Linked DNA regions of Homo sapiens: region 1 is linked to region 2. The links come from fine-mapping of genetic effects on gene expression. Tissue or cell type: cerebellum. Region 2 holds a variant in brackets; the other region holds the start of a gene. All regions are shown on one strand. Distances are from middle to middle.

Region 1 (10,420 bases), 38 kb after region 2:
CAAAATGAAGAGATAACACACAGAATGGGAGAAAATATTTGCAAACTACCCACCTGACAAGGGATTAATAAGCAGAACATATAAGGAGCTCAAACGATTCTATAGGAAAAAAAATCTAATAATCCAATTAAAAACTTGGCGAAAGATTTGAATAGACATTTCTCCAAAGAAGATATACAAATAGCAAACAAGTATATGACTAGGTGCTCAATATCATTAAGAATCAGAGAAATGCAAATCAAAACTACAATAAGATATTATCTCACTCCAGTTAAAATGACTTTTATCCAAATGATGGACAATAACAAATGCTGACAAAATTGTGGAGAAACGGAAACCCCAGTACAGTGTTTGCGGTAATGTAAATTAGAACAACCACTCTGGAGAACTGTTTGGTGGTTCCTCACAAAACTATAAATAGAGCTACCAGCATATGATCCAGCAATCTCACTGCTAGATATATATCCAAAAGAAAGAAAATCAGTATATACAAGAGATATCTGCACTCCCATGGTTATTGCAGCACTATCCACAATAGCCAAGATTTGGAAGCAACCTAAATGTTCATCAACAGAAGGATGGATAAAGAAAATGTGGTACACACATACAATATAGTACTATTCAGCCATAGAAAAGAATGAGAGCCAGTCATTTGCAACAACGTAGATAAAACTGGAGGTCATTATGTTAAGTAAAATAAGCCAGGCACAGAAAGACAAACTTTGCATGTTCTCACTTCTTTGTCGGTGTTAAAAATTAAAACAATCAAACTCATGGAGATAGAGTAAAAGGATGGTTGCCTGAGGCTGGGAAGAGTAGTTGGGGGATTGGGAGGGGGACGTGGGAATGAATAATGGATACAAAGAAATAGTGAGAAACAATGAATAAGATCTTGTATTTGCAGCACAAAAGAGTGACTATAGTCAAAATAGTTTAATTGTACATTTTAAATATCTAAAAGAGTATAATTGGATTGTTTGTAACACAAAGGATAAATGCTTGAGGTGATGGTTACCCCATTTGCCTTGATGTGATTATTACACACTGTTTGCCTGTATCAACATATCCCATATAGTCCAGAAATATGTACACCTACTATGTATCCACAAAAATTAAATGTTTAAAATTTAAAAATTAATAAAATGCATACAGTTGTAGAAAGAAATAAAAATGTATATCTTTGTATACATCATGATCATTTATATAGAAAATCATAAGAAAACTTCAAAAATCTACTAGAACGAATGACCTTGGCAAAGTCATAGGGTTCAATTTAATATAAGAACTATGTTGTGCTTCTATATACTGGTAATAATAATTGGAAAATAAAATGTGATCAACTACACTATTTAGCATATTATCTAAAAATATGAGCTATTTAAGAATAAAATATTTGCAAGATCTGTGCTTTAAAAACTTCAAAACATGTTGAAAGAAATTAAAGATAACATAAACAAGTGTAGATATATACTATGTTCATGGAACAAGAAACTCAATATGTTAAGATGTCAATTCTACTCAAATTGGTCTATAGGTTGAACGATATGCTAATCAAAATCCCAACGGTCTTCTGATGTAGAAATTGGCAAATTGACCCTAAAATTTATACAGAAATGCTAAGAACATAGAACATAGAATAGTCAAAATAATTTTGAGTTAAAAAAAGAATAAAAATTCAAGATATAACCATCTGATTTCAAGATGTCCTGTATGGTAACAGTGATACGGTTTGGACATGTGTCCCCACCAAATCTCATGTTGAATTGTAATCCCCAGTGTTGGAGATGGGGCCTAGTGGGAGATGACTGGATCTTGGGGAGAAGGTCTCATGAATGGTTTAGCACCATCCCCACTTGGTACTGTATAGTGAGTGAGTTCTCACAAGATCTGATTGTTTAAAAGTGTGTGGCACCTCCCCTCCTCCCTTCTTGCTCCTGCTCTGGCCGTGTAAGATGAGCCTGCTTCCCCTTGGCCTTCCATGATGATTTTCAGTTTCTTGAGGCCTCTCCAGTAGCAGAAGCCGCTATGCTTCCTGTACAGCCTGAAGAGTCATGAGCCAATTAAAGCTCTTTTCTTTATAAATAGCCAGTCTCAAGTATTTCTTTTGGCAGCCAACTGACTAATTAGAACTGACTAATGCAAACAGTAATCAAGATAATGCAGTATTTGCATACAGATAGACCTGTAGACCACAGGTCAACTCATTGTTTATAAAGGCAGCAAGGTAATTCAGTTAGGATGGTCTTTCCAATAAACAGTGCCCAAATAATTGAATAGACATTGATTAAATAAAAAGAACCTCAATGAGTTCCTCATGTCACATGCAAAAATTTACTCAGAATGGAGTATAGGTCTAAGTTTAAAAGCTGAAACCATAAAACTTCTAAAAGAAATTATAGACAATGATCTTCACAATTATGGGGTAGGCAAAGCTTTTCAGGCCACACAAAGGACAAACTACAAAAAATGGAGAAACTGAACTTCATCAAAATTTTAAATTCAGTTACATGAAAGAGACCAAAGAATATATTGTCCAAGCACCATGGTTCATGCCTGTAACTCTAACACTTCAGGAGGCTGAGGTGGGAGGAACCCTTGAGCTCCGGAGTTTGAGGCTGCAGTGAGCCATGATTGCACCACTGTACTCTAGCCTGGGTGAGAGAGCAAGACCCTGACTCAAAAAAAAAAAAAAAAGAAATAATATATAATATATAATATATAAAGAACTCTCACAACTCAATAATAAGACCAATTGAAACTACCTTTGTAAAAATTATAACAGTGAGAAAATTATGACGCTGAGAGAAATCTAACCTGATTCCATCTAGCTTCTAAACTCCAAGCTGCCCTTGTTCATTCCTGGTCATAGGCTGAACTAACTTTGGAAGGAACTTAGTTTATAGTTTAACTTTGAAACAAAGATAACAGCCCTTTCCCAAAATCAACTCCCATCTTGCCTGGGGACCAGACTGCCTTTATAGGAGTAATATATTAGCCACAAGATTAGAAATTATGTTCTGGAGTCATACAGCCAGAGGCCACAAGATGCTGAACCTCCCCAATTGCTCCTAGGGATAAGATCACTATTGTAAAACCTAAGACTGGTGCTCGAGATATTTTCCAGACCCTGCATTCTGATCCACCAGCTAGCACCCAGACCAGTAATCTGGCTCTACCAGTTCTGCAATCCCACCCAGGAACAGAAGACAACAAGAAAAACCCACTTCGATCCCCTGTGATTTCATCTCTGACCTAACCAATCAGCACTCTCCAGTCCCTGGCCTCCTGTCTGCCAAATTATCCTTTAAAAACCCCGGTCTCAAAATTTTCAGGGAGACTGATTTGAGTAGTAAAACTCCAGTCTCCCATTCAGGTGGCTCTGAGTGAATTAAGCCCTCTCTACTGCAATTCCTTTACCTGGGCATGCAAAGGATAAACTCCTTGATAAATCACCTTTACTTGGGCAGCAGGCAAGGAGAACCCATTGGACAGTTACAAAATGGCCCTATTTTTAAAAATGGGCATAAGATTTTGCAAACATTTCACAAAAAGAAATTCACGAATGGCCAATAAACACATGAAAAAACACTTAACATTACTAGTCATTAGGAAAATGTGATTAAAACAATGAGATACCACTTTATACCCATTTCAGTGGCTCTGGTTTGGAGCAACTAGAAATCTCAGGCATTACTGATGGAAATGTAAAGTGGTACAGTCAGTTTGGAAAACAGCTGATGGTTTCTTATAAAGTTAAAAATACACTTACTATATGACACAGCAATCCCACCCCCAGGCATTTACCCAAGAGAAATGAGAACATATGTCCACACAAATACGTGGACACTAATACCCATAGCCATCTGATTTTTAATGGGCTAAAACAGAAACAACCCAAATGCCCATGGATACACATATTGGAGTACGTTTATATAATAGAATACTACTCAGCCATGAAAAGCATGGACTAATGATGTACAGCAACACAGATTGAATCTCAAAAAACGTTCAACTGACTTTTTAAAAAGCCATCAGATAACTTCATTTATATGGAATTCTAGAAAAGGCAATACTAATCTACAATGACAGAAAGGAGACCAATGGCTGTCTATGACCAGGGCTGGGGAGAGTGGTTACTGCAAAGGAAACCAGAATTCTTTGGGGTGAGGTCAATTCTCCATGTCTTAATGTGGTTATGGTTACATAGGAGGATACATTTGTCAAATTTATTAAACTGAAAAATAAAGTTAATTTTTTTTTAAAGGGAGACTGTTTCTCCTGTTTTGTTTTCCCCTTCACTTTTCAGAATTAAGCTGCAGTTAGCAGACTTTCCTGGTTACTTTGAATCAGGAACTCCTCAAAAAGTCTGTTGATGAAGGGAGAATCAGAATTAGGCATTTAGAGCAGCTTGATTTGACAACTAAATGTAGAAATTCCTAATAAAAAAAAAAACCACTTGAAATGTTGCCACATATGGAATGGGCTGGAGAAGATATCACTGAGGCATCATTGTTGTAGGGTGTTCTTTCTAGGGAAGGGAAGGGAGGTGAAGGACCATGAGCTCATCATTATCAAGGATTCTGAAACTTCAGTTCATTTTTATTAATAAATTACCTTCATGTGGCCAATGAATTGCCGGTCTGATTGGAAACTCTTTCCTGCACCGAAGAAACTGCACCAATTAGCAATATTCATCTGCCAATTCAGCTCTGCAGGTTCAGGCTCATTTAACTTGACAAAAATAGCTTCTTTTTCTTGAGTAGGGGAAGTTTTTCTCTGCCTCCAGCCCTAGTGATGGGCAGAGATGGTGGTGGAATCTTATTACAGCCTTCCTGTCCCTGATGTTCTTTATCCAGCCGCAGCGCCACAGGCTGCCCGTTTTTTTTTTTTTTTTGGATACCCATTTCACGACCTTCTTTGGTTTCTTTATCACAAAAGTCACTGTATGTCTTTTAGCTCAAAGCCCTACTGCAGTATTCTCTGTTTGTCTTTTTCCCTTTACTCTTAATATCTTATTTGTTCCTTCCCTTTTCCCCTTCTTCCCTTACCCCCTTTCATTCTTCCCTCTTTTTTTCTTTAATTCTTCACCAGCCCCTAGCATATTCTAAACTATTTGCCCCTTTCATGATGTAATGATGAACCGACCCCCGCCATAGTAATCAGGTGGGTTTTTTTTTCTTTGCAGTTTCCTTATACTGAAGTGGTACAACCCCACCCCCATTACCATCACCTCCACTTCATTTTAAATGTTCTACTCTTGTCCAAGATTGACTGGCCAGTTCTTCCTACCATTTCAGCCCATCATAAATTCGTAAATATGGATTCATTTGCTGAGCCTAAGTTTTCTGCATGAAAGTAAATCCCTTTTGTGATACCTACAAAAGTCACAGAATCATCAAACACAGTTCAAAAGAGCAAATGATAAATATTCATTGCATCATAATGATCTTGATTCTAAAAAGCAAATTATTTGCTATATAATAGGAACAGGCAGGTTAAAAACAATAATTAGAGTGTGAAAGAGGTAAGAGAAAGTTCTGAGAGTGATATAAAGTTTCATTACATTGACTGAAGATGGTTTCATGGAAGTATATTATGTAAAAACTCATCAATAATACACTTTAAATATGGATGGTTTATTTACATCAATTATGACTCAATAAAGCTGTAAAGCAAAGGAAATAAATAGTAAAAAACAAAGACAAACAAAAACATCAATGACTTAGGAATAATTAGCCAAGATATTCTTAAATGTAGGCTAGTGTATATGTAATTTTAGACTTGCTATTTATCAGCTGTATCCTTATTCTATGAAAATCTCATTTTACCTTAAAAAAATTAAGATGCGAGGACATACCTCTGAATGTTCAGTGGTCCTGGGATGCTCTCATGCAAGCTCGTTTCACTGTGAGCTGATGAATCAGCATAAAAGCTGAATAGTATCTCATGATCACACTCTGTTCTGCCAATAAGACAGTTTATTTTAACTTGCTGTTCCCATATTTTGAAAGAGACTGACTGCTGCAGAAATATACAAATCAGAGATATTATCAATCCTGAATTCCCAGTAACTTTATTTTTATTCTACTTTGCTACACAGGCTACTGGAGTTAATGTCCTATAGGTACTTGAGGATGCTGGGCACTTGGCAGGTATGCATGTTGGTCAATTCATTTGACAACATTTGTTTGCAAGGAAAATTTTCCTTAATGCGTCTTCAAATAGAAAAGTCTATGAGTAATCAAATGTGAGTGACAGAAGGGTAACCTTATTCCAGTAATGTCCCCTTTAAAAATTTTCCCCCTGAGCAACCATAAAGAATAAAAATAGTGATAATTATCAGTTCTCTATTTTTGCTGTGGAAGCTGGGGAGTTATGAAACAAATATACAGCTCAGTTTATCAGGACATTAAAAAATGCATTATGCATGTTATTCTTACCCTAGTGACAAGTTATTTTTTTAACCATTGTTTTTTCTCTGACCTGATCTGATCCTTTTTCTCTTTCTTTCTTTCTTTTTCTTTCTTTTCTTTTCTTTCTTTCTTTCTTTTTCTTTCTTTCTTTCTCTCTCTCTTTCTTTCTTTCTTTCTTTCTTTCTTTCTTTCTTTCTTTCTTTCTTTCTTTCCTTCCCTCCTTCCTTTTTTCTTTCTTTCTCTCTCTCCCTTCCTTCCTTTTTCTTTCTCTCTCTCTCCCTCTCTCTCTTTCCCTTTCTCTTTCTTTCCTTCCTTCCTTCTCTTTCTTTCTTTCTTTCTTTCTTTCTTTCTTTCTTTCTTTCTTTCTTTCTTTCTTTCTTTCTTTCTTCCCTTCTTTCTTTCTATCTTTTGTATCACAGAAAGCTTCCTCCAATCCTTTTTCTAACAAGGTAGGGTGCAAACAAAGGAATAACAAACTTCCTTTAGATATGAGAAATGTGGATCTTTTAAAGTGTTATTTTTGAGAGTCTTAAGGCAACATTAGGATAATAACATAACATGAAAACTGTGGAGATAAATTTTGATCTCATGTGAGCCCCAGGGTGGCTTTTATTTACAAATCATGTTTACTTCTCAGAGGGGTGGGCAGACATAAGCCGGTGTTTTAGAGAGTCTGAGGTGAAAGCTTTTCTCTCCCCAACAATGGCATATTTGTAGTAGAATTTTCTCATAAGAGTCTTGGTGAACAAAAATACACAGGGATAGAAGGTGGAATGGAAGGAAGTCCATTTCAGAAGGAAATAATCCCAACATAACTTTCAAGATATAACAATAGGTTATTAACTGGTGGATTTGGCAGGGAAAATTCTGCTACATCATTTTTTCTTTTTCTTCTTCTTCCTTTCTTTTTAAATTTATTTTATTTTTTTATTTTTAGAGACAGAGCCTAGCTCTGTTGCCCAGGCTGCAGTGTAGTAGCACAATCATAGCTCACTGCAGCCTTCGACTCCTGGGTTCTAGAGATCCTCCTGCTTCACCCTCCCAAGAGCTGGGACTGTAGGTGTGCACCACCATGCTCAGCTAATTTTTTATTTTTTGTACAGACAGAGATCAGCCTCTATTGCCCAGGATGATCTTAAACACCTGGCTTCAAGTAATCGTCCCACCTCAGCCTCCCTAAGTGCTGGGATTATGGACATGAGCTACTGTGTCCAGCATGAAATCATTTATGATGTGTTGACCATTTTTCAACTGGATATGAAGGCAGTATAGACACACAACTGTGAATTTATCAAGACCTGTGCTTTGTTTACTTAGTTTCTTTATATAGGAATTTTCAAACAAATGTAAATTGGAGGCATGTACACTGCAGTAGGTAATGGCTGTATCAGTCAACACTTAGCCTTAGTTGTCACCACAATGTTTTACCCCAGTACCATGCCTATCCTCGTGGGCCAAAAACACAGATAGAGTCTAGAAGAATGCACAAAGCAGCTTTTCACCAAGGGTTAAGTTTCCATTCTACTTGCTAACCCACAGAGAACGCATAGAAGGTGGAGATTAGAGAGTGACTTCTACACTCCATTCAGCAGATTCCAGGTTTCTCGATGGCCATGAAGAGTCTTCGATCTAGAGCCTCAAGGTTACTAAATTGCCACTTTTCAAGGTTCCTATTCTTGCTTTCTCCTCCATGCTGCAGTCTTTAATTCCTTTGGTCTTCCCAGTTTTTCCCAGATTCTGCCCATTTGGTCTCTGGAAGGGGTTGTCAGTCACTCAGCTCCATGGGTTTTAATGCTAGGTGGAGTCATAGTGAAGTTTCTATAACATAATCAGACTTATTATTCCAAGGCCAAGACTGATCTACTTTTATCAGTTAGAACTCCTTAGATTGCAAGTGACAGAAAGCCCAAGCCAAGGGACTTGGGTCAAGTTTGTCCTCAAGCACTCGCTTGTCCTTTCAGCTTCTAGTATGTCCTTGCCCTCATCTACTCAGGCTTTCCTACCAATTGCTGGCTGGCTATTCTATAGTGACTTCAGGTTCAACATCAGACACAGAGACAACAGCCTTGCACAGACTTCTCCACCAGCAACATAGTTTTGTAAAAATCTAACCCCTATAACAAATCCTTTAATCTATATTACTTCTAGTGGTTCTACTTCGCTGACTAATAATATGCCTTCACATAATACATTCCAAGGTCTTGGAAAAGTCTATGCACATTGCATTCGTCTGTTCTTGCACTGCCATAAAGAAATACCTGAGACTGAGTAATTTATAAAGAAAAGATGTTTAATTGACTCACAGTTCTGTAGGTTATACAGGAAGTATGGCAGCATCTGCTTCTTGGGAGGCCTTAGGAAACTTACGATTATGGCAGAAGGTGAAGGGGAAGCAGGCACATCTTACATGGCCAGAGCAGGAGCAAGAAGAGGTGGAGTGGCAGGCTAGGCAGGTGACACAGAATTTTAAACAACCAGATCTTGTGAGAACTCTGTCATGAGAACAGCACCCAAGGGATGGTGCCAAACCATATATGAAGGATCCACCCCCATGATCCAGTCACCTTCCACCAGGCCCCACCTCCAACACTGGGGATTATAGGGACACAAGATTTGGTGGGGACACAGATACAAACCATATCACACATATACTCTGTCTGCCACTCTCTTGATTAAAAATTGCAACCTAGTTTAGACAGTCGGTCTTAGTAATAGTGAGTATTCTCTTTTTATATTTTATTGAAATCATTAGACAAATAATTATAAAGCTTGAGTCACTATTTAATATGTCATGAGCATTATTCATGCCTTTGCACAGTCTTTATAACCATAATTTTAAAAAGGCTTGACAATATTTGAGTGGATGCTCTGTAATTTCATTTTTCACTTTTCTATTGTTGGCGCTGTAGGTTTTTTCCAATACTTTACGGTTATGAATAATGATCCGAGGTGCTGCTTCATGCATATAATTTTTCCATATTTTTGGAACATTTGGTTAGTCTATAATTTCATAAATAGAGCATAAAGGTGTGTAAAAGGTATGAACCTTTGTATTGCTTTTGATTCATATTGTTTAATTGCTTTCAAAAGGACTAGGACAATTACAATCCCATTAGTAATTGGTAATACCCTTGCCAGCTTTGATTGTCCAGCTTGGACTGAGTTGTACATTCACCTGACTGTGATGAAGCAGCTGGTCCTGCAGCTCGAGCAGTGGAGTTTCCGAGTCTATGGAGTTTTTCTTGTTGATCCTCAGTTCATGGTGGAGTCATTCAAGTGTATTTCTGGCATCTTGGCAGTCCTGAGTGCCATGCTCTCTCTATAAATTCCGCAAGTTAACATCGTGATCAAAATGTAGCTGCAGAGTAAAAAAGCTAAAAAGGAAACTGTAAGTTTCTAGATCTAGACATGGATTCCTTATTTGATGATTCTACAAGTGGCTTAAGAAGCAAAGAATTCAAAAAAGTAACTAAAGTTGTATGTGGGCTGATGACTGCAGCATAGTTCTCTTCTTACCTTATGATCAGTCAGATGAAGAAAGTATGAACATTGTATTATAGCATATTGATTTAGCCATTCAATGTGGAGAAGATTCAACATTTAAATAACCAAAGGAATATGAAAATGAATCTTCTTCTATGTTTGAGGAATATTTTCAAGAACACCAGGATGAATGAAGAGTTTACTAAGGAGTAACTGTCTATACGTGAAGAGCTTGTGGCCAAACCGGCAGAATATTCTTCTCTTCGAAGAATGCAGTAGTAGAAAGCTGCATATTCTAATGAAAAAAAAGGTACATGTTTTTTTTTTTTTTTTATCAGCAGCATGCCTGAATCAAGTTTTGAATTATTCTGAAACTGCTGCTGCTTCACGTGGAAACTTGTAGTATTATTTTGATCGTATCAATTTAAATTTAAAAGTCAAAATTGAAATGAATGCACATAGAATTGTATATAAATTAGCACCTCTGCAACAGTTAATAAGGCTAATACAATCTCATTTTTACT
Region 2 (10,420 bases):
AGGATGGCACTGAACAGACTGTGTCAAGGAAGAGGTGCTAACCTTATTGAGAGATGAGAGGAGCTCAACTCAGTGATGCATAAAGGGACGTAGCAAGGAGGGGTGGTGGGTGGTAGTCTGAGAATGTGAGGACTGTAGAGGGAAGAGGAAACACGGTCTTTAGTCACTGTGAGGGGCACACCCAAAACCAATGTGGGATGTGGAGAGGAAACAGCTGCCCCTTCGAGGGGCCATAAGAGGCAGAGGCCTCAGAGCAGCAAAACAGTAAAGGGACCCATCAGAGAGGTGGCTGAGGATACAAGGATTTTACCTAAAACTGACTGTGATCCCAAAGGGTGTGGTGGCAGTGTTTCAAAAGTCGAGGGTGATGGGAGGTGGGGTCAGGGTAGCAGAGGGGCTTCACATGTTGGGGTGACATGGAGTCTAGGCCTTCCTGTGGATAGGAGTCACATGGGAGAGAGGGCACAAGGAGATGCCTCCGTGGCCTCAACAAGGTCAGTGCTTGCGAAGCTTCAGGGCTGGGGGCAGGGAATGGGGTTCTTTTCAGAGACATGCAGAGCTTTGGGGTGCCCTGTTCGTGCCTAACAGTGGCTGGGTGGAAGCCGAGAGCGTGGGATTCTGGGTCGACGTCAGCTAGGCTGAGACCGGCTGCCCGTGAGAACCGGGATCTGGCTGGAGGCACCTGCATCATTACGATGGCTGTACTCACCTTTCCCCCCTTCTCTCTCCTCTCATAACCCACCCCAGGTGTGGCTGGCCCTGCCCTCTGCTCCAACCTGGAAGTTTTCACAGGCCTCCCAGCATTGCCTGGGGACCTGGGGATGGAAAATTCCTGAGACTTCCAGGTGAGGTCGGCAAGAGGGCTGCTCCCTGTCCTCCAGCACAAGAGAATTCGCTGCATACCACTCCACTCTCCTCATGTCCTCGGGCCCTTGTGCCTTCCCCCAGGACTCCCTCATCTAGCACATCCCATCACTAGATTTTACTTTTGGTCAGTGTCAATACAGTGTCCATTTATTTCACAATTTCACTGAGAATTGCACACCAATTTTGCCTCTTTTTAGAAAAAAAAAGTCTATTTTTACAAAGACATGGAATCAACCCAGGTGCCCATCAGCAGTGGACTGGATGAAGAAAGTGTGGTTCAAATACACCATGGAATACTGCACAGCCATAAAAAAGAACAAAATCATGTCCTTTGCCACAATGTGGATGCAGTGGTGGCCATTATCCTAAGTGAATTAATGCAGGAACAGAAACCCAAATGTTCTCATTTTTAAGTGGGAGCTAACCATTGGATACACATGAACATAAAGATGGCAACAATAGACACTGGAGACTCCAAAATGGGGGAAGGAAGGACGGCGGCAAGCATTGAAAAACTATTGGCCAGGTGTGGTGTCTCATGCCTGTAATCCCAGAACTTTGGGAGGCCAAGGAGAGTGGATCACCTGAAGTTAGGACTTCGAGACCAGCCTGGCCAACATGATGAAAACCTGTCTCTACTAAAAAAATTAAAAATTAGCTGGGCATGGTGGCAGGCTCCTGTAATCCAAGCTACTCGGGAGGCTGACGCAGGAGAATAGCTTCAACCCAGGAGGCAGAGGTTGCAGTGAGCTGAGATCATGCCACTGCACTTCAGCCTGGGCGACTAGAGCAAGACTCCATCAGAAAACAAAACAAAACAAAAACAAAAAACAAAGAAAAAAAACTATTGAGTATTATGCTCACTTCCTAGGTGACAGGATCACACACACCCCAAACCTCAGCAACATGCAATATACCCAGATAACAAACCGGCACATGTACCCCCAGAATTGAAAATAACAGTTTTTTAAGGCTAATTTTGTAACCATTTAAAAATTGAAAACAAAATATAATGGATAAGTTAATGTTGCTATGCTTATTTTACAACCTAATTATCACAATTAGAATTTAAATTTCCTACAAGTGACTCCAATTCAGCTGTTACCCAGGGAAAATGCCATTTTATGAGGCAGTAAACTCTAGCAGACAGAAAAAAAGCCAGCGTTGAAACAGTTTTTCCTTTTCACACAGGTCCTGGGTCAGATTTTTAGCTGCATAAAACCTTAATAGTTTTCATCTACATGTGGTCATTCACCTAATGGTTACAGCTTTGCCTTGTTCAGGGACAGGACCATGTCTCTTCCTGAAAGCTGAGCTGTGCTGGTGAGCAAAGTGCTGAGGGGATCTGGCCTTACTCACTCCACAACCCCCTCAGCCCCCAGAACTCTGTGGAAGTAGGCTGTGATCCAATACAGAGCCACATCATCCTGGGAATATTCCCAGGATCTAGTCTAGGGTTGTAGTGGAAAGCGTCCAAGGATGTTAAGGCTGAGATCAGACAAGGATGCTCTGGGAAGCCAGATTCTGCATGTTAGCACGGAAGCCACAAATCTTGCAGCTTTCTCCCCTGAAAACCACAGTGGCCCTTTGGGTTCTCTCCTTTGAAGATAGATCCACACCTATCAGGCACAATGTGGCTCTGTTGAAGGTTAATGCTGAGAGCCTTAACCCCATCGTCCTTCAGAGACAAAGCAGAAGCTGCCTCTGATCATCTGAGCTGGCAGGTGCTTCCTCAAGGAGCCCTGTGGAAAGTCACCATTCCTACACCTGGTCCCATTGTGTCCTGTGGCTCTCAGCAGTAAATGACTTTGTCTAAGATTACATTCAAAAAAGAGTTAAATTCCTGAGTGAGGAAAATTCAAAGCCCCCTCAAGCATTGCTCTTGTCAAGAATTGGTATTGTGGGCTGAAAGGCCACATTCTGCAACAAGAGATTAAGGGACTCACAGGGACAGGCAGTGCTGGAGGCCCTGCGAGAGTCTGGGGGCCTGAGGGAGTTGGTGCCACTTCACTGCAGGATGTTAGAGCCAGTTGTGTGAGAGGAGAGCTCACAGCCTGCCAGGACTCCATGTGGCAGGAGGGGCTGGTACAGATGTGTGGAGAACTCAGAGACCATCTGGGCAGTGCAGATGGGTTTAATTCTTCCTTGATCTTCTGCCATTTGTGAGCCAACCTGTTGTTCCAAGATTCTTTGTGATGTCCTCTGTACTTGCCCGGTTGGCCATCCTTGCTACTTTGATAGAGGCATTGGATCTTCTCTCTGCCATCCTCTTAGGATCTTGTTTTTTTCCAAAGTGGTCACAGAAATTTGAACTTCAGTAGCTAACTGTGGCTGAACTGTTAATATAAGTGAACTTAAAAATGTGACTTTCTTATCACTCTGGGGGATCTTCAAGCTCATCCCTGGAGAAGTCTAAGAAAGGCTACAGAACCATCAGGAGAGAAGGCCAAAATGTCACGTCCATCAGGTTCCGGGTACTATCCATGATAGCATTACCCAAAAGCTTATGCATAACAATCAGAGGTCGTTTTAAAAGGCCAGCCAGTCAGAGAGGGAACTGTCTTTGGTGTCAATGCACACAGCCTTGGAGGCAATGGTGCCCCCAATCTACTGCTTCCTTTTGAAGAGACGTCTGCAGGCTGAATTTCACAGTTACTGTCTTTTGTGTCCCCACAAAATCCATGTTGGTTTTCTAGTAACCCCCCTGGATGACCTGCACAGTTATTATGGTGTGAGCAGATGTGAGGTGGTCTCCATCATCTATCAAGCTGGACCTGAGCTCCTAGATTGTTCCTCTGCGTTCATCAAAGTCTTGGTTTTCACCAGCATCTTTACACAGTTTTATTTATTTATTTGCTGCATTAAAAAACTACACTCAAACCCAATGGCATGAATCATTAGTGATATATCTCTTCTTACGATTTTGTAGGTCCACCGCATAGCTCTTCTGTTTCATGTGATGTTGGCTGGAGCATTGGGATGTCTGGAAGTTTCCAAGTGTCCTCACTAGCCTGGCTAAATGCTGGTTGGGAGCTCAACTGGGGCTTGGCTGATAAGGCCTTTGATTCTCTTCTAGTGGATCTTGGCATGTGGCTGATAGGACTTCCTCTCATCATGGCAGCAATGAGTGAGAAGCTTAAAGGGCAGGAGGAGTTGGCTGTT[A/G]CTCAATGTTGTATATGTTTTGACTTCTTTCCATTCCCATTGGGCTAAACTTTGGAAACTCAAAAGCTAAAAGCTAAAACTAGATTAGCTTACACTTTTTTTTTTTTTTTTTTTTTTTGGTGGTGGTGGTTGGGGAGATGATGAGGCCCAGAGAAAAAGGAAGTATCTGTTTAAAGAAATTAGCTGACATTTCACGAAAGGACATCCCATTATGCTTATTTTAACACTACATAAGTTTTGCATAATATCTTGTTTCATTGCTATGCAGATTTTTCACCCTTGGTCTAAGACTCTTAGCTTTCTGTAATTACATCTGCCATTTAACACACGCAGCAGGACTGAAGGATGTCTCTGCAATAATTAATTCTGAAATCTGTTGATTTAGGTAAAACTGAGCACTTTTTTAAAATAACAGGAATAGTATATTGCATTTTTATGAAAGCATTTGGTCTATCAATCTGGTAGGCAGAATAATGACCTCCCCCAAGATGTCCATATGCTAATCCCCAGAACCTGTGCATATGTTATTTTACTTGGCAAATGGGACTTTGTGGAGGTGATTAAAGTTAAGGACCTTGGGATGGGAAGATGATCCTGGATTACCTGTGTGTGCCCAATGTAATCAAAGGTGTTCTCTTAAGTGGGGAACCTTTCCTTGGGTATGCTCAGAGAAACAGATAGATCCATGGAAGTAGGTCAGGGAGATGCTCCGTTCCTGGCATTGAGAAGAGGCTACAAGCCAAGGAATAAAGGAGGCTTCTAGAAGCTAGAAAATGCAAGGAAACCTATTTACCCCTAGAGTCTCCAGAAAGGAAGATAGCCCTGCAGACACCTAGATTTTAATCCAGTGAGACCCACAACAGACTTGTGGCCTACAGAACCACAAGGTAATGCATTTGTTTTGTTTCTAGCCACAAACTTTTTACAATCTCCTATCAGTTTGCTCAATGCTACTGATGATTGTTTCTATGAGGAAGCTTTCTAAAAAAACAAACAAACAAAAAAACTTTCTTTTTTTGTACTTTTGCATTGCTTAGATTCCTCAAAAAAGTGTGCACTTTTTTTTTCAAAACAATGATTTTCTGAGGAGAAGGAGGAGAAAGAGAGGCATAAGGAGAGGAAAAGAAGAAAGCAAGGCAAAGGCAGAGGAGAAGGAAATACAGAAGATTCTGGGACACATTTCTGCTCAGATTTTATGTCCCATTGGACACTTCTTGGCCAAAACAAAGCTAGCCTCATGCAGGAGAAGCTGAATGTCAGGCAGAACCAGCTGGTGGCTTCTCTGTCCCTTCATATGCTCATGTGTGGCTGCCACATGAATCCTGAGGAATCTGCCTCACTCAAAGGGAGTGTTGGCATGGGGGAGTGTTGATATATATTTTTTGGATTAAAAAAACTATGCTGAATTTTAAAAATTGCTTTTGATGTCATGAATTCTCAATAGCCTCTGATGTGTGTTTCTGAAGCTCATTTCACGGGGATTGCATTTTCTCTCCTTGACTTATTTCTGATGAGACCAGGATGCCTTGCAGCTTTTGCCTGGCTTTTCCTGAGCACTGGGGCCTTGCCATCAGCTTCTTGGCATTCATCTGTGTTGTCCTCACAGCAGCCTGAGTGATCCTTTCCAACACGTCTTGTCACAGTTTTCCTTGCTCAGGGCAATCTGTGGCTTCCCGCCTTGCTCTGAGTAATGCCAAAGTCCTTTCTGTCATCTGCAAGGCCCATCATGAGCTGGTCCCTGTCCCCTCTCTGACTCACCTCCATTCCTTTCCCACCTGTTTCTGCCACCACAACCAGGCTGGCCTCCTTGATTTCCATCATCACTTGAAGAAAGTGCCCCCTCAGGGCATGACACCTGCTTTACCACTGCCTGCAGGGCTCTGTTCTCATCAGCTCTGGGGTCTGTTCACTCATTCTTTTAGAAATCTGCTCAAACGCCTCTTTTCAGAAAGGTCTCCTTGTCACTCTACCTAAATGATCCCTCTATCTCCTATGACTTGCTTTTTTTCCTTTAAAGAAATTATCATCAACTGTCATACTTCATATATGGAATATATAATGTCATGCTATATTTATATAATGCCTATATATGGACTTATACATGTATATAGACACAAATATAGACATTATGTAAAGTCTAATATAATGTATTAATACAAGAATAATAACTATATATAGTATAAACAACATATATACTATACATATATACATATTGTATATGCTGTATATATACACTCTATAATATATACTATGTTATATATGCTGTATATATAGTATGCATACAACATATATACTGTATAAACTATATATAGTAGTATATAATATTATATATAGTATAGGATATATAGCATACTACATTATAATATATAGTATTTAATCTTATAGTATTCTATGTAGTATATATAGTATTCTATATATAGTATTATAGTATTCTATACTATATTATATATAATTTACTGTATTAACATACTATATATCATACTAATATAATGTACTATACTAGTACCTATAATATACTATATATAATATATAAATATACTATAAAACAGTATTATATTTGTTATGTTATAGTATTAATATAGTATCTACACTACATGTAATATAGAGTATATATAGCATATACTATATAGTATATATTATATAGCCTATATATAATATATATAGTAAATATAGTATATAGTATATGTATATATTGTCTATATAGTATATACTATATAGAATGCCATACTACACATATATAACCTTTAGTGTATATGATGTCATATTACATATATAATAAACAAACATACATGCACATGTATAAGTGGATGTGCATTTATTTGTTGATGAATTGTTTCTAACCAGTAAGAATTTAAGCTCCATGATGGGAGGGACTTTTTTTTACTCTGAATCTTTATTGCACATCCTAAGTTTTGGTAATATTTGGTGAATGAAATATGTTGTAATGAATGTATAAATGACAGTTAAACTTAATATTTTTCCAGTTAAACTGCATGTATGCCTCTGTGTATTCCTATATGTCCATAAAAAGCAATGTTTTGAAATACAAGGACCAGAAGATGCCTGCCTTAGAAAAACCTAAGGATCTTGTTTAAAATGCCTATTTCGAGGCAGAGACACTGAGTCTGAACGCCTGCGGATGGGTTCTAAAATCTGCTTTGATAGCAAAGTCCTCATGAGATGCTCTCACCAAAGCGTGAGATCCAGTGGTCTGTGAAGTCCTATGAAAGAATGGATACAAGAGAAATGCAGATTACTATATTCCCTCCAAGGCTTCACTTCCCTGTTTTGATGGAGAGATAGCATGTCACCTAGAATAATGCAGGAAAAAATCACTAGAACCAAATGATACCATGCAAACAAAACACATCAGTGGTGATGTATTGTGATTATGATCAGCCCTTCTTTACACAAATTTTAAGAGACTCCAAGTCTCCTGGGTTTACACAACCAGTGTTATAATTGGACAGCCGGGCTCTTTGTCATTTCCCAGGCTCTCAAAATTAGATAATTTAAAAAACATCCACAGCAGCAGAAACCACAGCAATAAAACTAATGGCAATTTTCTTTCCTTCTGAGAAGAGTTCCCTGTCTTTGGGTCTTCTGTTTAACCCTATGTGGGGTTTTATCTAACAAGCATGCAAGACCTGGAGATCTTGCATGAACCTAACAACAGAGACTCCCAGACTCTAGGTGAGCCCAGTGATGATGAAGCAATCCTCAGGGGAGTCTGGAACTTGGGCCTGGGTGTTCAAGTCACCCATGCTTCAAAGTAATTGATAATTATTTTTACCTATTCTTTCATTCCAAAATATTTACCAATGGTATATGGGGTTATTATAACGATATACATTATCGTCATCATTGCTAACTTCTTTGGACATTTACTATGTATCTGGTTCTGTTGCCATTTATGTTGTTAACTCATTTAAACATCACTGCAACTCACTGAGGAAGGTACTGTTGTTATCATCCCCCATTTATAGAAGAAGAACACACAGCACAGAAAGCTACTACATAGATGCTGAAGTAATAAATCAAATTGAGTCAAGGCACTTACATAATGGGAAAAAACCCCACAATTTCCATAGAAGAAAATCATTTCAAGTTATTTTGGACCAAGGACAAAAAGGGTTCAGACAGGGGAATTATGGAGAGATGAACATTTAAGCTGGATATTAAAATTTTATAGGAATTATAGACTCAGAAATGATGTGTGGAGAAAAAAATGGGCTGTGAGGAGGAGGGGGAAGGCATCCCAGGCAGAAAAATCCTCAACAGTGTATCCATGCAAAAATGAGCATCTGGACCCTTGAGTGGGACGCACCAGTGCCCACCAGGATTTGGGGTTTCAAGGGTATTACACTTTGCTGGACTTGAGGCCTTGCCTTGAACTCTTGAGTTTCTCTGTTCACCAGTGGGATCAGTTGGTTAGTCCCGATTCCCAAATTAGCCTGGACATTGACCACAAAGCATAGGAACAAGATTTTAGTAAAAGTTTTTAAATACCATATGTTATACAGTAAATTAACTCAGGAGTGGGGTCCATACCTCTGCTTCTGGGCCCTAGAACAGGATTTGAAGCTCTACCTTCTGGGCGATGTCTTCAAGTCTCCTGTTACCCAGAGAAAGAGAGCAGCAGAGCTCAGAAACCCAGCACGGCAGGGCTGCAGATCGAAATGCCTCCTCTTCCGACAGTATTTTCACGCACCCTCAAGATTAAGAATCCCTGCTTTTTTTTTTTTTTTTTTTTTTTTTTTTTTTTTTTTTTTTTTTGCTAACTGCACTGTTTCTTTTCTCTCTTGGTTTCATTTTTGATCTGAAACAAACAAACATTGGATCCTGTGAGAACCAGCTAAGTTGCTGCTCTGTCCTTTGGGTTGAGAAAGCTGGGGAGAAATTCACTGAAGACTAATTTAAATCATTTCCCACTTTAGACCCTCACTGAAGAGTATTAGAAACATCTAGGTTGAGAAAGATTTGTATCCTTTCATCATAAAGAATAGCTTCTTCACTTTATACTTGTTAGGAAAAAAATTTCTCTGGAATGCAAATAACAGAATCCTACATAGAAATAGGATTAAAGAGTGAGACAGGGTAGGGTGGGGTGGGCTACAGGGTGGAAATGTGTGTGTTAGGAGAGAGAAAGGAGGGGGATAAAATATTATCCATAAAGTTGGGCTCTCCATCTGGGGCTGATGGAAGAAGAAATTTGCCTACCTTCATTGTGTAGGATTTGAAGTCCTGGTACCCAAAGGCAAAGCATCTTTGTGGGGTGTGTTCCATATCATTAACCCTGGTCATGCATGGCATTTTTCCTGGAGATAATTTCCTCTCCTAGTCTATCAATGTCAAAAATGAAATATTTAGAGTCTGTAGCTGTTCTACAAGAAAGCTACATGAAACATTGTAGCTTCTTAAGTTAAATGACTGATCACCCTCAATCACGTAATTCAGGCCCCACATGGGGAGGGGGTGGCTAACTACACAGCCTTGTTATCTATGTAATTCCTGATTTCCTTTCTTCCTACTTTCTTCTTTCTTTATGCAATGTAAGCTATAAGTACCTGGGGTAATATTAAGGTTTTACTGGGAGTATAAAATAAGAGTATGTGGACATGCAAAAGCCAAGCTCAACCATATGTAAACAAAGTCATCCTAAGTTATATTTGATAAAAGGGTGGATATAGACTATGAATGCCAAAGTTCAGAGACCAGGACAAAGCTAAGGAAGGGAATGGCCTTTAGCGGGTGCTCAAGATGGGAGGTTGGTTGAGACAAGGCTTGTGACAGGGCATCGACAACAGTCTGGGGGAGGATGCAGGGGCCTTCCAGCAGGGAGGCAGCCAACCACATCAAGGTGCATCCCCACAGGTCAGTGCGCATCCCGCGGATTCATGCCATTGTGTGCACTTGGTTTTCCACTATGCTTTCACTTCCAACAGCCAGCACCTGTACCTCTTTGAGTCCTGTGCCTGGGCCAGTGCCGACTTGGGTGAAGGTTGCCAGAGTCTGCTTTCTGCACACATGGGTGACTCTTATCCAGTGGCTCTGTGTGCTGGAGTATAAGTACTCCAGTTCTCTTACCCCTAATGGGACAGTTTGATGTGGGAACTGCTCTACCTTCAAAGCTCTCCTGTGAGGTTGAGCCAAACTCACCTTCCTGGAGACTTCACCTGGTAATTCAGCCTTGCTTACCTCACTTCCCATTCCTGTTCCACTTCCCCACTCACCTACCAGTTTTTCCTGGTAATACATTCTGAAAAATCACTTTCACGTGAATCCTTGTCTCAGAGTCCATGTGCTTCTAGGGAACCCAACCAGAATGCTTGGCAGGCATGTTCCAGTCAAGACAGGTGAGCCAGATTACTACAGCTCAGTGATATTAGCC

Evidence for each region.
Region 1: LINC00836 starts here. The variant in region 2 is fine-mapped to the expression of LINC00836 in cerebellum (GTEx, PIP 0.92).

The regions. Positions count from the first base shown.
Region 1 is chr10:25,647,237-25,657,656 of GRCh38, reverse strand. LINC00836 (long intergenic non-protein coding RNA 836) reads right to left here and starts at 5,945. Exons shown (of 3, transcript NR_108068.1): 1 at 5,858-5,945. It also overlaps the pseudogene GPN3P1.
Region 2 is chr10:25,684,801-25,695,220 of GRCh38, reverse strand. All of the region lies in intron 1 of LINC00836 (long intergenic non-protein coding RNA 836), which reads right to left. It also overlaps the pseudogene HIRAP1. Among named protein-coding and RNA genes, the nearest start is that of LINC00836, 38 kb to the right of the region's middle. RefSeq lists an enhancer at 630-1,130. The variant A/G (reference allele first, on the strand shown) is at 4,030.